2 linked regions of the Homo sapiens genome follow. The protein of the gene in region 2 purifies or fractionates together with the protein of the main gene of each other region. This does not show direct contact. Each region holds a gene or a part of one and is shown on either strand. Other genes may lie near its edges.

Region 1 (5,298 bases), on a different chromosome or scaffold from region 2:
TCACTAGAGCTTTTTTGAAGAGTCACAGACATGTTGTCTGTGAATAGAAACTGCTCTTTGAAGCACACTGTTTAAAGAATGAAGACAAGCCAACAACTGGGAAAAAATATTTCCCTATCACATCTAGCTATTGCACTCCTAGGCATTAATATAAGAGAAAAGAAAGCATATCTCTCTCCAACAACTTGTACATGAATGCTCATAGCAGCTTTATTCATAATAGTCAAAAAGTGAAAACAATCCAAATGTCCATCAAAGGGTAAATGGGTTAAAAAAAATCATGGTATATTCATAAAATAAAATACTATTCAACAATAAAAAACTATGAACACATAACAACATGGATGAATCTCAAATTATGCTGAGTGTAAGGAGATTCCCCGTGCTAAAAAAAAAAAAAAAAAGCGTATATACAATTCCATTTTTATAAAATTCTAGAAAATAAAAACTAATCTTAAGCAACAGAAAGGAAACAATGGTTTCCTAGGGATACAGAGAGGGTAGTAAGGAGCAAAAGAAGGGATTACAAAAAGTCATAAGGATACTGCCGATGCCCCGGCTAGAGTGCAGTAGCGTGATCTTGGCTCACCGCAGCCTTAATCTCCAGGCTTTGGGTGAGTCTCCCACCTCAGTCTCCCAAGTAGCGGGGACTGCAGGCACACAACACCACACCTGGCTTTTTAATTTTTTTGTAGAGACAGGGTTTTACCATGTTGCGCAGGCTGGTCTTGAACTTCTGGGCTCAAGCAGTCCTCCTGCCTCGGCCCCCCAGAGTGTTGGGATTACAGGTGTGAGCCACTGCGCCTGGCCAAGTATACTCTTTTTTGAGACAGAGACTCATTTCGGTCACCAGGCTGGAGTACAGTAGCACAATCACAGTTCATTGAAGACTCAACCTCCCCAGCTCAAGCAATCCTCCTGCCTCGGCCTCCCAAGTAGCTAGGATTACAGGCAGGCACCATCACACCCAGCTAATGTTATTTTATTTTGTGTAGAGATGAAGTCTTTCTATGTCGCCCAGGCTGGTCTGGAACTCCTGGGCTCAAGCAGTCCTCCTGCCTCGGCCACCCAAAGGGTTGGGATTACAGGCCTAAGCCACTGTGCCTGACCTTGAGGATACTCTTGAAGGTGATGGATATGTTCCTTATCTTGATTGTACTGATATTTTTTTAAGTAGATATTTTTGTCAAATTTATCAAATTGTACACTGTAAATATATGCAATTTGTCCTGTCAATTTTGCTCAATAAAGTCGTTAAAATATATCAGTTTATTCAATTTATTAGTAATCACCCTTATATCAAAGATTAGTGTTTTACTTATTACTATCACTCTACTTGGTGGCAATGGTCACTATTCACTATTTTCAAATACAATATTAAGGTTTTTTAAATTCAGGCATAGTAAATTGAGGTCTATTTTCAAAATATCTTTGAGGTTAAAGGAAGTAACTGCAGGCCAGGTGCGGTGGCTCATGCCTGTAATCCCAGCACTTTGGGAGGCCGAGGCTGATGGATCACCCCCGGTCAGGAGTTCGAGACCCGCCCGGCCAAGATGGTGACACCCTGTCTCTACTAAAAATACAAAAAAGTAGTCGGGCGTGGTGGCGGGTGCCTGTAATCCCAGCTACTCGGGAGGCTGAGGCAGAGAATTGCTTGAACCCAGGAGGCAGAGGTTGCCGTGAACCGAGATTGCGCCACTGCACTCCAGCCTGGGTGACAGAGTGAGAGTCCATCTCAAAAAAAAAAAAAAAAAAAAAAAAGAAGTAACTAAATTTTGAAATCATGTAAATTTGAGAATGTCTTCATGTAACCTTTGACTATGAATATGTTGCCTGAGTTTACCAAAAAAATAAATAAATAAATAAATAAATAAATAAAAAGGAGGAAGGTTGTCAGAACCATAGGGCAAGAACAAAGGTCACACACACAAGTAACATTTTGAGGTCCTAAATTCAACCAGTAGGTTTTAGAAATACCAACTTTTTTTGTTTTTTTGAGACAGGGTCTGGCTCTGTCACCCAGGCTGGAGTGGAGTGGAACAATCAGAGCTCACAGCAGCCTTGAACTCCTGGGCTCCAGAGATCTTCCCACCTCAGCCTCCCAAAGCACTGGGATTACAGATGTGAGCCACCACGCCTAGACTAAAATAAACATTTCTTGATCATATTTTTGGAGAAATTAGATATGCAAATCTAGTTAATATAAGATTAGAACTGTAAGAGAAGTCTTGAGCCTACTTAAAATCAGTTAATCAATATTTAATTTATTGTTGCAGACACATGTAACAGGATATCTGATGCTTCATACACTGTTCAATGCCTTTTAATTTTATGACTTGTATGATAGTTCTCGGCTATTCATTCTTGGGTTTTACTGAAGTTCCAAAAATCAAAGAGCTTTGATTCTTGTAATGGAAATATCTAGAGAAACTTGTGTTTAACTGACTCGGCAGAGATGAAGGCCAAATTCTCATATGTACCTATAACATTACTCAAATACTATTCTTAGTACAAAAAAGTTAAATATACTCTTATCTCTGAACATGAGCTATTCAGACCAAGGCCACTCAGGTCAGAGTAGAATACTCAAAAGCTGGCTTTAGCAGTCCCTTTCCTCCTAAAAAATGGATTATTGCTCTGAGGCCCAGGTATACTCAGCTTCATCCCTCCCAAGGCTATTCTGTCAAAATTCCACTTTTATTTCCACCCAGTCTACCTCTTTCTAGTCTTCAATTATCTGTTTACTCTAATGCCAGATCCAAATTTCTCAAGTTGAGGTAAAGAGAGACAAAATAAGACCATGTATACTAGAACAGGGAAAAATGAATTCATGGTTGTAGAGGATGTGAATCTAGATATGCATTTCCATTCAGTGCTACAGATTTAATATCTAGTAAAATGTTAGCCACATGGTGCTATATCATGTAATTTTTATGTCCTACTTCTCCTATGAAACATTTCTCATCATTCTTGATTTTCCTACAGTCTACTGGCCATATTGTAAATAATTTTTTTTTCTTTTCTTTTTTTTTTTTTTTTTTTTAGAGACAGGGTCTTGCACTCTCACCCAGGCTAGAGTGCAATGGTGCTATCATAGCTCACTGCAGCTTCCAACTCTTGGGCTCAAGCGACCCTCCCACCTCAGCCTCCCAAGTAGTTAGACTACAGATGCATGCAACCTCATGCCCCCTTAATTAAAAAAAAATTTTTTTTGTAGAGAGATGGGGTCTCACTATGCTGACCAGGCTGGTCTTGAACTCCTGGCCTCAAGTGATCCTCCTGCCTCGGCCTTCCAAAGTGCTGTGATTACAGGTGTGAGCCACCATGCCTGGGCAACATAGTAAGGCCCTGTCTCTAAAAAAAAAAAAATTTAAATATAAATTTAAAAATTAAAAAATTGGTTAAAGTTTACTGTAATTATACAGGTTGATAAAATAAACCACTAAATTACAGTCCTCTCTTTGCACTACTTATAATGGAGAAACAGCTCAAGTGTCCAACAAGAGAGTAAGGATGACCAGGCATGGTGGCTCACACCTATAATCCCAACACTTTGTGGGGCAGATGGGAGAATCACTTGAGGCCAGGAGTTCGAGACTAGCCTGGTCAACAGAGCAAGATCCCATCTCTACAAAAAATTAAAAAATTAGCTAGACATGGTGGCATGCATCTGTACCCCGAGCTACACCCGGAGGCTGAGGCAGAAGGATTGCTTGAGCCCAGGAGTTCAAGGCTGCAGTGAGCTATGGTCACACCACTGCACTCCATCCTGGGCAACAGAGCAAGATCCTATCTCTTAAAAAAAAAAAAAAAAGAGAGAGTAAGGCTGAGTGTACTAATTCCACATAATATTACTATTTAAGAAAGAAATGAGTAATATGGACACATTTTTATGAAACACTAAACATGAGGAAGAGAAAGGCCCAATATAGAACTCATTCACTGATGACAACTAGGTAAGAAGTCTGAATCTCTATAATGTATTTTTAGCAAATGTCAAATCAAATATACTAACAGTCATACTGATCATCCAAAGGAAGACCAGGAAAAAGAATGTTTTTCACCACACCGAGTTTAAAAACTGCTGGAGTAACCTAAATGAGAGTCCTTTTGAATTGCCAAAGCTTTTCTTTAGGTACAATACTTATTCAACTAGAGAAACTGAAGCTGTCCTAATGACAGGACAGCTTCAATTTATACAAATAAATTTTCTTGAATAGAAACACAAAGCTTTGGCCGGGCACGGTGGCGTGATCACACCTGTAATCCCAGCACTTTGGGAGGCCAAGGCGGGCAGATCACGAGGTAAAGAGATCGAGACCATCCTGGTTAACACGGTGTAACCCCGTCTCTACTAAAAATACAAAAAATTAGCTGGGCGTGATGGTGGGCGGCTGTAGTCCCAGCTACTCGGGAGGCTTAGGCAGGAGAATGGCGTGAACCCGGGAGGTGGAGCTTGCAGTGGGCCGAGATTGCACCACTGCACTCCAGCCTGGGTGGCAGAGTGAAACTCCATCTCAAAAAAAAAAAAAAAAAAAAAAAAAAAAAAAATATATATATATATATATATATATATATATATATACACACACACACACACACACATACTCATTTTATTTGGATTTTTTATATATATTCATATATTTATACACACACAACACATTATGGTTTAATTACAAGATTCAAGATCTCACTGCAAGAAAAGCAATAAAGTTTAATGCCAAGAGCCTATGCAATTTATTTTTGTTTACTTCCAAGCCTGTTCCACTTTCAGAATGGAAAACCAAAGTTAAGTTACCATATATAGGAGAGGGCATGCAATGTGATATACTTTCACAGACTAGACAATTTAGCATTTCAACAATTCTAACAACCTATTAACTTTTGTTAAAACCCTTTTGGCAAAAATGTATTAGGGTCACCCACATATACAAGTCCAGTCAGACTTACATGCCCAGCTCGATTTTCAGAAACATTCAATACTGCCTCAAGACACCTAGATACCCTTAGAGAGTAACTTCACATCTCTTACTTTTTAGGGGTTCTTATAATAAAGTTCATGAATGGACTTGAGTGGGGGGGCAGGAAGTGACATACAAAATTCCATGTAGGGTGTATTTGCATTTTCTGACATAGGACCACACCTTTCATCAGATTCTCAAAGGATTTCATGACCTTAAAATAGTTTGAGAACCACTATTATGTATCTCACAGGTCAATTCAAGAGCAATAATTATATCCTAGTTGATAACTGGTTGCTAAGTAAAATAAAGCATTCCTTCCACAGAAAGGAAGGCT
Region 2 (5,298 bases):
AGTAACTTGCGCGCAGCGAGGAAGGGACGGAGAAAGAGATTTCTCCCTCTCTTACCTGAGGCCCAGGAGGTCCTTTGGGTCCTACAATCTGTGAGAGAGAGCCCCACAGGATGGTAAGTTAGAGGAGAGCACAAGGAAATGACCCATTTAGAGCAGCAGCTGCAATACCGGGTGAGAATAATTTGCACTTACATCCTTGATGTCTCCAGGTTCTCCTTTCTGTCCCTGAAACATGAAACATTCACAGGATTAAGCCGAGTAAGCCCACTAAGCCCCTAGTCTAAAACCCTGCCAGCAGCCCCTGTGTTGAGGTACCCTCTGAAACAGATATCTTCTGATGTCTAAAAAATCACAGACTGGATTAACATAGCATTGCTTTTGAAGCAGAAAATATAAAGCCAAAAAAATATGAAAAAAGAAAAAGAAGAAAGCCCTTACCTTTGGTCCTGGTTGCCCTGCAAGGGAAAAAATATAGAGAAGAAGAAGGTAAGAATCTTGAGATGGAAAAATACCTATTCTTGTCACTCAAACACTCATTAGATCAAACAAGTAAAAGGACACAATCAAGGAAGGCGGCAGCTTCCTGTGACTCCACTGAACCCCTCTGTTGGGGTGTTAGGGCCACTGTGGCCCTGGGGTTGCTGAGGTCCCATGAGGAATGGAGGTGACCCAGACTTTGTTATTCAAAAAGCAGGCAGCATGCAAAAGAAAGGAGCAAGGGCAGCACAAAAAGGCAATGAAGAGCTCAAGATCTAATCAGCCACAAGAAGGAAAGCACAGATTCAGTCTCTCTTCCCCCCACAGGGTAGGGAGCCGTTCCCGAACCCCAAGCCCTCCCAGAGGAAGAGTTAGGTACTTAGAAAGGTCTTACATTAGAGCTGGGTCTCCTTGAAGCAAGCACAAATAAAAACACAAAAACAGCAAGGCATATGAGTTATGAAGAGCATCGGAGCATCATAGCCTGTGCCATCCCCAGTCAATAACCTCTCCTTCACAGTAGCAGCAAAATAGTAAAGGCAATCAACACTTCACTCACACGGGCCCCTCAGAAAGGATCTGGGAATCTGCACATTAGGGAGCCAGTGTTGGTGAAGTGTTAAGGAAAGGCAGCTTCTCACTTCCCTTGCCACGGCCTTCTCTACTTCAGCAGGAAGCGGACAGCAAGAGCTACCCAAAAAACCTACACAAGCGTCCCCACTCACTCTGCAGGGAGATAGGACATCTGTATGAATGCTGGGAAGGGGTCACCTGCACATATATCATCCACCAGCACTGGATCTAACTGGGAGTTTATAACCACCCACTACAGTGCAGATACATGGGGCTCTGTCTCCACCCGTCCCCACGAGAACTCCCAAAGCCTAGCCCTTCCCTCTCCTATTATTTTGCTTCTGAATTAATGGTCAACTCCAAGAGAGGTAATAGCAGAGAGGAAACTACCACCAATGTTCCATAACTCAAAGAGGGAGCCTCTGCCCCTGCAGTCTCCCCACTAGCTGGCAGAGCTTTCTCCACACTGAAGACCACATACATAGAAGTCTTCTAAGGAGAAGACAAGGTGTCGGTGGCAGAGGAGGAATTAATTCGTGGATTGGCCAGACAGAGCATTTGATCTCCATAGTGGCTCTAGTAATTTGCAGAGATGATTTCAGAGAGGATTTTTTTTTTTTTTTTTTTGTAGAATCACATCTGTCCTTCATGTGTCTTGGAAGCAAATGTTTTTGGAGATGTTGGGCAAAGAAGGACCCCTCTAGTGTCTCAGGCTCGTTCACTCAGTTTCAACCTGCAAGTGAGAAGTGGCCTTTCCTTTCTACCCCAGCTACCAGGTCCCATGGATAACTAGCCCCTCTGCTTTGCAGAGACGACCAGCATCTATGGGAGCGTGTTTGCAGTGCTTGCAAGTAATTTATTTATGTTGAACAGGAAATAAATAAATTACAACCACTGGCAGTGGCGAGGTCAGTTGGGCAGATGGGGCAGCACTCTCCGAAGGGGATCTCAGGGCTGAGGCAGTCTTTCACGTCTTCACAGATTATGTCGTCGCAGAGGACAGTCCCAGTGTCACAGACACAGATCCGGCAGGGCTCCGGCTTCCACACATCCTTATCATTATACCTCTGCCCATCCTGCACACAGCTGCCAGCCTCCTCTGCACCAAGGGTGGGGAGGGAGAAGCAGAGAGCCAAGGGAAGGAGGGGGTGGGGAGCCAGAGAGAAAAAGAGAGAGGTTGCAGTCAACTTGACAGAATTCAAATGCTGAAGAATGTAGGCTGGGGCCACCTGGACATATAGAACTTAAAAATTATTTTCCTAAAACATCATTGATTTTTCCATGTATTCAACAAATATTTATTATGCACCTTGCACCATGTTGTCTATTCACCAGTGAAAATCTTGACCCAGCAATGAAGGTGGGGGGTTACTATACTATATTCTCTTTACCCACCTAATACGGGGGAGACCAGGTGATGGAGTGGGTGGAGGGAGTTGGAGGGTGAGCGGAAGGGAGGAGACAAGATATTCTGAATAGGAATTCTGGGACTATAAAAAGAAAGGAGACAGAAAAATGGCGAGACCTCCCTTCCACCAGCCCAGGAGCAGAGAAGTCTTCTTTCTTCTGCCTTCCTCTGGGAATTATGGGATTAGCTAAATACAACTGACAACTAACATTCAGAGGGAATGTAGAAAATTCTACCTACAAAAATTGGAATCTATAAGCAGTGAGGCTCCAAAAATAGGTATATAAGAAAGGGGGGTGAAAAGACGAGCTATTAGAATTAGGATCTTGTCTCATTCTTTGAACCATATTAGAATTAGGACCAATTTGGGGAGGGGGATAGACCCATTCAAACAATACACTTGGGGCTTGGGCAGGCTAATAAACTGCTTAGGAGGCCAGTGGAGCCAAAGCGCCCCCAGTGCTGACCTCCACCTGTAGCCCTGCCTGGAGAGGCCCTGCCTCCATCTGAAAACAGCACCCCAGTTTGGGGAGCAGGGGTCGTTGAATACCTGGCTAGGGCTAAGATTGGCCAGTCCAGGCCTGGCCTCCTCCAAGACTGCAGAGGAAGAATAGCAGGGACTAGTCTCCTCCACCAGCGCCCTGCCGTCTGGAATTCATGCTGCAAATGAAACCTGTGCTGACAAGAGCGCTCCTTAGCAGCCAAGGGCTGTAGAGCCCGCACCACGTGCTAGGGAGCGCCCAGCGCTGTTTTTCTCATCAAAATCCCCAAGGCAATAGCAGCAGCAGGGGATGAATAATAGGAAAGAGCCACAAACCCAGAGGGCGAGAAAGAAACGAGCCTGCCCACTGCTCTTTAAAGAGAGTGAAAATCCAAAGATAAACTTTCCTTTTTACTTTCCCACTAGAAGAAATCCGCCTAGCCTTTGGGCAAGATAATCACAGGAGGGTGAGGGATTCCAGGGAAAATACAGAAGTTGCGGGGACACACCCGCCGTTAAAATAGCTGGAGCAGTGGAATGCAGGCGGTGAGGAAGGTGTGGGAGAGGGGGCATCGGTTAATGCGCTCCAGCCCAGACTACAGGAGAGCCCACCCTCGCCCATGAGGACCCAGGGAGGAGAGGGGGAAATGCTAGGAGAGGGGCCACTCCCCGTGCGGATCAGATTTCCCGGGGAAGGGCGGCCCGGGAAGCGCCGGCGCAGGGGCGGGGCCAGGCTGCGCTGGGTGTAAGAGCCGCTGAGTGACTCTGTGGCTGCGGCTCTGGACACGGCTCGCTCACAGACACCGGGAGAGTGAAAAGTGGGATTAAATGACTGCCCCAGAAAGGAGCCAGCGCCGTAACCGGATCCCCTAGGTGTGGACGGAGGAGCCCAGCACCACCATAATTGCTGCTCCAAAACGGCTGCCGATAGCATCCCGGCGCGCCTGATCCGGTTCCCCTCATTACCGCAGGGCCGTATAAGTGATTCTTTGTGGCAAGCCAATTAAAAAGCTACCTCTTTCGGGGAACTGTTTTGCTTCACCGCCGCTCTGCGCAGGGCTGGAGCCGAGAGGTGGCGGCGGGCGGGCACAGGGGGGCATTGTGGGAGAGGGGGTCTGGGAGTACGAGAGAACCCACTGGACCTCGTCTCTCATGAATGGGGCTTTTCTCGAGCGCACACAGAGCCCGATTCACAGGTCTCCGCGAGGAACCAGTTTAAATAAATACGGGCAGCGTTTCAGCCCCATCTGGAAGCCATCGCTGCCAATCTCCCAATGCAAACAAGCCTCACAAAGGAGGATTGAGATCTCTCCCCTGAGCCAGGGGCACTTTCGGAGGCGAGGGCTCTGAAATGCAGATGAGGGTCAAAGACGCCGCCGCCAGTAAGTTTCTCAAACTCGTGGAAAGATGGAGAGGAGGGGTGTGGCCGAGCTCTAGGTGTCTGACATTCCTGACGTCCACGCAGACTGCGCATTTCCCCACGTCACACCTTTGGGTCCGCTGACCCCAGGCGGGGGAAGTTATAAAAGGTGGGATGCTCCAGGGCGCAAAATCAGCCTCTCGGATGCAGAATCACACTCCCTCTGGGAGGAGGAGCGACTGGAAGGTTTGGGCCGGAGAAGCTGTGGAATCACTCCCTCCCAGGAAAGATGCGGCGATGAGAGAGCTCTACCGCCTAATTAAGCAAGCGACCCTAATACCGGATGGAGAATTTGAGAATTATTTTAAAGCCACCCAGCTAATTCCATTGCGCACTAAGGCAGGGGTCAGTCAAGAAGACAGCTTTGTGGGCGTGTGCTTGTAAATGTAGTACAAAAATATAGTCAGTCTGAGTCCAGGCCACGTATAGTCACGCTGTATTCCTCAAATGCCCAGGAGCGCGCCTCCAGCTTAGCGCACTACCGGGTGACCCGGCCAGAGTCTCCTGCTCCCGGCTCCTCGCAGCTGCGCCGCAGGCTCCAGCCCTGCCCCCGCTGCGCTAATGACCGGAAAGCCCGCCTGAGCCCGCCGCCTTCCACGCTATCCCTGGAAACAGCCTGGTGGCAGGAGAGGGCCCACAGAGCCTCGAAGGCAGAGAACTTTTATTCCCCCCGCCGAAGAGTTTCCCTCTGCGATTGATTTACAATCTGTAACATACAAAGACAGGGCTGGAATCCCAGCCGTCGGAAACGTGCCCAAACACGTGGAAAAAAAAATCCTCTCTACCTAATACACTTTCCAGGCTTCGTTTGTCCTGAATATAATCCCAGACAGTGGACCTTACCAAAGGAGGGGTAGAAAGGTGCAGTCCGAACAGCATTTGGACCCGACTACAAGAGCCATCTCTAACTATACCGGTTGAAATAGTTGTAGCAACCGT

What was found. Proteins that work in one complex are often made in the same cells at the same time.
Region 1: the proteins of COL2A1 (region 2) and P4HA1 purify together in Homo sapiens (affinity purification with mass spectrometry; one large-scale study listed by BioGRID and IntAct). This does not show direct contact.

What each region holds. Positions count from the first base shown.
Region 1 is NC_000010.11:73,089,324-73,094,621, forward strand, and holds part of P4HA1 (prolyl 4-hydroxylase subunit alpha-1 isoform 2 precursor), read right to left. Parts: intron 1-5,298. UniProt on the Homo sapiens protein: Catalyzes the post-translational formation of 4-hydroxyproline in -Xaa-Pro-Gly- sequences in collagens and other proteins.
Region 2 is NC_000012.12:47,997,977-48,003,274, forward strand, and holds part of COL2A1 (collagen alpha-1(II) chain isoform 1 precursor), read right to left. Parts: intron 3,578-5,298; exon of another isoform or gene 3,009-3,577; intron 2,150-3,008; coding exon 1,943-2,149; coding exon of another isoform or gene 1,940-1,942; intron 456-1,939; coding exon 439-455; intron 226-438; coding exon 193-225; intron 89-192; coding exon 56-88; intron 1-55. UniProt on the Homo sapiens protein: Type II collagen is specific for cartilaginous tissues. It is essential for the normal embryonic development of the skeleton, for linear growth and for the ability of cartilage to resist compressive forces.